Regions from separate parts of the Homo sapiens genome. Here region 2 is linked to region 1. Evidence: fine-mapped expression QTL. A gene starts in region 1. The other region holds a variant in brackets. All regions are shown on one strand. Distances are from middle to middle. Region 1 holds the start of QPCT (glutaminyl-peptide cyclotransferase). Region 2 overlaps PRKD3 (protein kinase D3).

The links. PIP is the estimated chance that this variant, and not a neighbour inherited with it, causes the effect. A credible set is the group of variants that fine-mapping cannot tell apart.
Region 2: its variant is the best candidate, but not a certain one, in a credible set for the expression of QPCT in tibial artery (GTEx, PIP 0.67).

The regions. Positions count from the first base shown.
Region 1 is chr2:37,342,838-37,345,751 of GRCh38, reverse strand. It overlaps QPCT (glutaminyl-peptide cyclotransferase), which reads right to left and starts at 1,122. Exons shown (of 7, transcript NM_012413.4): 1 at 901-1,122. The coding sequence starts at 1,020. It overlaps LOC124907754 (a long non-coding RNA gene), which reads left to right and starts at 697. Exons shown (of 2, transcript XR_007086284.1): 1 at 697-2,025. RefSeq lists a silencer at 692-751.
Region 2 is chr2:37,267,259-37,270,172 of GRCh38, reverse strand. It overlaps PRKD3 (protein kinase D3), which reads left to right. Exons shown (of 19, transcript NM_005813.6): 13 at 486-558; 14 at 2,637-2,743. It also overlaps a transcript of NDUFAF7 not described here. Among named protein-coding and RNA genes, the nearest start is that of NDUFAF7, 37 kb to the right of the region's middle. The variant A/G (reference allele first, on the strand shown) is at 1,354.

The DNA of each region.
Region 1 (2,914 bases):
CCATTCTCCTGCCTCAGCCTCCCGAGTAGCTGGGATTACAGGTGCGTGCCACCACGCCCGGCTGATTTTTTGTATTTTTTAGTAGAGACAGGGTTTCACCATGTTAGCCCTGATGGTCTCGATCTCCTGACCTCGTGATCCACCCGCCTCGGCCTCCCAAAGTGCTGGGATTACAGGCGTGAGCCACCCCGCCCGGCCGAACCCATACACTTCTTACAGAGGGAACTTGCAAATCACTTTTATCCTAAGTTCCTTATATGCGATTTCTACCTACAACTAGATCCATTTTCTCTGAAAATAGCAGGTACCCTCTTTTAAGTGGAGGAAAAAGGCTTTTGAAGTAAGCAGGTCTCCAGTAAAGGTCCTTCCTGCCGAGTTGCTCCTTTTAAAAATCTAAAACAAACAACACACATCCGTCCTGAGACTGTAGGGACACTTCAGCGCCCCAGCAGCATCCTTGGATGAAGCAGCGGGGGGGCTGTGGGCACACCCCCAGGCGCACCCCGCACCCTAGCGGCCCCGGAGCGCCGGCCCCGTTGCCCTCCAGGGTCCCGAGTGGGGGGTGGCGCCGCGATGCGCCCTCGCCTCCCGGCTCAGCAGCCGCCGGCGAGACACATTTCCTGTGCCTATCAGCACCCCCATCAGACCGCAGCCCAGGAGAGGCCAGTGACATCACCCAGCCCCCCTGGCGTCTCCAGAACAGCCCCGGACTGGCCGAGGCACCCCGGCGAGTATGCAGAGCCCCGACTCCTCCGGGCGCCGGGTGGGGCGCCGGTGCCTGGGCTGGGGACCGTGGCCCTGCCCCGCCTCCCGCTCTGCCTAGGTAGGGCTGACCCGGCCAGGGGTCCTCGCATCGGACCAGAGCCGCTCAAGTACAACTACGCAGAAACAGCCCCTCACCTTCTCCTCTGGCCAGGCTGAGGCACTCGGACTGACCCCCCTGGATGCCCAGGGCAGGGCGGCCACCAGCAGCAGCAGGTGGAGGGTGCCCACGACGCGCCGGTGTCTTCCGCCTGCCATCTCTCCGAGTCTGTCTGGGAGCGGGTTCCCCGGGCCGCTGGCGGTCACGAGCCCGGGAACGCGCGTCCTTCGCCTTCCCTCTTCTCCACCCTTGGGTCGACTGCGCCCGCCTTCCCATCGCCCCCGGGTAGCCTCCCGCCGCGTCGCGCAGGCTGCAGCCCTCCTACCCCGGACCTTCGCAAACCCCGGGGCTGGGCGGCCCTGGGTGACAGACACAAGCTTCTGAACCCAAGCTAACAAAGGCGGCCACTTCCTTCTCTTGGAGAAGATGAAAGGAAGGAAGCAAGAGACATGGAAGAGCCTTTTTATGATCTCCAATGCCAAAACAGGGAACAGAAAAGGGAGGAAGGGTTCACCAGACCCTGGGGAGTTATGAAGTGTTTCCCACAGCTCCTAAAGAAGGGGTGGACAGGGAATCGACGTCTGCTGAACACGGCACCAGGCACCGTCCTAGGTGCTTGTCCAACCTTCCCGGATTTAATCCACTAATCCCATTTTACAGACGGGGAGACTGAGACACCCCCCCACCCCCCATAGAAAGCCTGGACTGGAACCCACAAGCAAAAGTATGACAGTGGATCTTTGCCTTTTCTCTTTTTTCTCACAAATAGTTGCCTTGCCTCACATCATACTCTCAAATTGAAAAGGATGGTCAAAGTAATTATCTGAAATAATGAGATCTACAATATTCACAGCGGCTCTGAAGGAGTCATCTTCTCCAAGGCATGGCCCCAAAAGGAAAAGCCAAACACAATTCTATTTACTTTGTAACATCAAAGGTCATTGTTATCCAGATAATCCTAGGGCAGGAAAACATTTCAGTTTTGTCTGTAGGTTTCTGGTCCAAGTTGTCAGGACAGTGACTTTCACCAGCCTCTTTTGCTTCCACAGTGAGGATCAGGGCTTGGCCTGCTCTGAGTCATCTCCCAGTAACATCTAGTTCCCAGAAAAATCAGAACAAGGATACTGAAGCAGAACCATTTCACAGAGAGCAAAGATTTGAAGGTAAGGAAGCTGCCAGAAGGCCCACCCACTCACTCTGTCTTCCCAGCCTTGGCTATGAGTTTTTAAAGAGAGGGCTTGCCTGGAAATACACTGTTCTGCCCTCCTCTGGAGCTGTAGGAGAAGACAGGATGTAAATAACTCCTTTCCTGGTGTACAGATTTGCTAACCCTATTCATGTCTGAGAGTTTTGAGTGACAATTTAAATCTCCAGGCTTAAATAAAATTAAATACACCTTTATTAAACCCACAGACAGTTCTGATCATCGGACCCCCTTCAGAACTTTCTACTGGCTCCAGTTTCAGAACTAAACCACTGTCACATTCCCCAATACAGCTCCTCTCTTGCTGCCTGGGTCAACCTTGAAATAGTGCATTTCCTGAGTGGCTGGGTAATAAAGAGCCTATTTGCTTTTTTTTACCCTATTACCTTTATGTCTTTTCACAATATGGTTCCTATAAGAAAGAGAACGTGGAAATAGCAAACCTAAATGAAACAAAATGTGAGAGGTACTATCATGCTAAGTATGAGCAATTCAAAACAAGAAATATAGAAATAAGCTAAAATGTCAGCACATAACGTAATGATGATTTTGTTTCCTAAGTTTCTCCAATTTTGGTTATATTTAAGTCAATAAGATGTTCTTACAGTTTGGTATCTACAGGAAGCAGACTCTGAGACAAGAGTTTAACATGCAGGATGTGTATTAGGGAGTGCCCTTGGGACAAACCCCTGTGGGAGGAAGAAGGGGAACAGGAGAGAACAGAGGGAGAAGTTAGCAGCAAAGCGGGCCCAACAACCTCACCCAACTCCATGGGAGTCCTGAAGCTGAAAAAGACGGTCAAAGTTGTCCCATACTGGGCCAAAATGTCTGGGGCCTTATCTCTGCAC
Region 2 (2,914 bases), 76 kb after region 1:
TCACCACAACCTCTGCCTCCTGGGTTCAAGCGATTCTCCTGCCTCAGCCTCCCGAGTAGCTAGGATTACAGGCATGCACCATCTCACCTGGCTAATCTTGTATTTTTAGTAGAGATGGGGTTTCTCCTTGTTGGTCAGGCTGGTCTGGAACACACAACCTCAGGTGATCCACCTGCCTCAGCCTCCCAAAGTGCTGGGATTACAGGCGTGAGCCACCACGCCAGGCCTAAATACAAGATTTTTAAAATGCAAAGCATTTTTTTCCTGAAAGTCTTGCACAATACATTATACTTGCACATAAAATTTGGGCTTAACCTCTTATTAGAACATAGAAAGCCTGTGTTTTCATAAAATAGTTTGCACTTTATGGAAATTAGCTGCTTCTAACATAAAAATGTATTGAAGTATTTGGATGAAGAAAGTCAGAGATGTTGACATTGTATTATAGAAATAAATAATACTAACTCCTTACTTTATCCTACCAGGATATCAGTACTGTTTACCAGATCTTTGCAGATGAGGTGCTTGGTTCAGGCCAGTTTGGCATCGTTTATGGAGGTAAGCAACTACAGCCGTTTGCATATTGTACACATTATTTTAAAAACTGGAAAATGTAAAACATCTGCCAGCTGTTTTGTCATCTCATAGTTTTGTCCAGTGCCTTTTTTTTAAAGGCTGACTTGTTATCTTTCAGCTAAATCCTTCTCACTGTAATTTGAGTATTCTTCCCTTAATGTCATTGCAAACTTTAAAAATTAACAGAATCAGAAAATTTTACAGTGTGTTTTATCTCTTCTTGTAGCTCACACATACAGATGTTTGTCGGAGGCAGGGGGGGAGATGGTTTGAAGTTTATGTTGGGCTGAGTGGGCTTATTCATTGAAGTATATTCCCTACTAGTTTTCCAACACAAATGGCACCATTTGTCTACTGTTGGCATGATTGTTCTATTAAGTCTGAAAACCTGAACCTGAAATCCAACTTTGCGATTTAGGATATTGATGAAGTCATTTAACCTTACTGTGCGTTAGCATCTTCAACTGTTTAATGGAACTAATAAAACCTGACCTGTGTAGCTCATAGGGCTTAAATATTAATTAAACTTAATATATGTAAAGGTACTAAGAAAGAAATGTTAAACCCTTGTTATCCCTTGCTAAGACTTGGTACAGTAGTTTCCTAGTTGGCTGTTCTGCCTCCATTCTTACCTTCTTTTCATACAACTCTTAGAGTCAATCTTTCAGAAAATTCACATCTGATATTAGTATTACCTCACATAGAACCCTTAAGTGGTTCACAGTCATCTACAGATTCATAGCCAGTTTTCTTAGCAGAGGATTTCAAGGCTGCTGT[A/G]ATTTATCCCTGCTTCTCTAGCCTCAGATCTAATTGCAGCTTCCTCTTTGCTTTCTATCTTTCAGTCCTGTTTACATGCCTCCATACCCTTTGCCTCTCTGCTCCTTCTCCATCCCTTTGTCTCTTCTAGTGCACATTTTTTCATACTTCAGGGCTCAACTAAAGGGCTTTCTCTGTGGAAATTTCTTGTCCCCGTACCTATTTCTCCATCAAATAAAAACATGGTTCCCCTTTGGTACTCCTGCTACCCAACATACTTCTCTCACAATATCTATTACCCTTTGGGTTTACATTATTGTCTTCCCACTGAACTTTATTGGAGCGTTGGCTGTGAGATGTCTGGATCTTCTTTGTATTCCTAGCACCTAGTATTGTGACATAAAGCAGTCGCCTAGAAAATGTGTTGACTCTGCATGCATATATAATATCTATGGTTTGCAACTTCAGATTTGTCAGTTTTAAGAGTAGTTACATCTCTGGAGGACTTCCTGTCATCAGAGGAACAAAGAACTGTCCGAGGTACCTTTGGCTTCTTACCAAAAATGCACACATTTGTTCAGTCTTTTCAAGTAGACTTACGATTGTGCCATTGAGACAAATGAGTTAATCTAAAATAAATAGCTATGTAGAGAAGAGCAAGTCAGATACATATTTGAAGAACAAATACCAAAAATATACCTGTCATTTTCACTGCTTAATCTGTAGCATCTAAAGGCATACCTAGTACATAATAGGTATAACTAGTTAATTTGAATTAATAAATGAGGGAATGACTGTTCATTATAATAAACTTCTACCTTTTTTTAATATCTAGATTCTAGAATATAGAGACAAATATAAATTTTTTATATCTAGATTCTAGAATATAGAGACACCCAGAGTTTGTGGGTACATGGTTAAATCACTCTGTGCTGACTCATTGAATCTAGAATAAAATTGATTCATTCATACAGTATTTCCATCTTGACAGAGTCTCTGAAGGACTAGGTCAGGGTAATTAACTATCATTGATTTAACAAGGTAGATTACTTTTCAGCAACAAGTTCATTCAAATTTTCTCCTGTTTAGATAATGCAGCTGACTTTATTAGGGGCAAATATTATGTATGGAGGGGAAAACAATTTTTTCCTAAATTAAAGGTGAGTGAAGGAGTGTGGAGAAAGAACAAAAATGAGCCAAAAAGAAAATTCAAGAGTAAATACATATAAATTTCAGTCTGTGGACAACTCCCTAATAAAGCTGTCAGTTTGCTTCATTCGTTCCTCTTCTTTTTTTCTTAATAGGAAAACATAGAAAGACTGGGAGGGATGTGGCTATTAAAGTAATTGATAAGATGAGATTCCCCACAAAACAAGAAAGTCAACTCCGTAATGAAGTGGCTATTTTACAGGTAAAAATAAAAAATAAAAAACTGGTTTATTAAAGAGGCTGGTAAGAATCTGAATTAACTGCTTCTCTTTTTTTTTTTTTTTTAAGAAGGCAAAATTAGATTATGGTAATATAGGCATTATAGGGACTGCCAATATCTTGCTTTATGGTAGTAGTTTTAGAACACATTTTC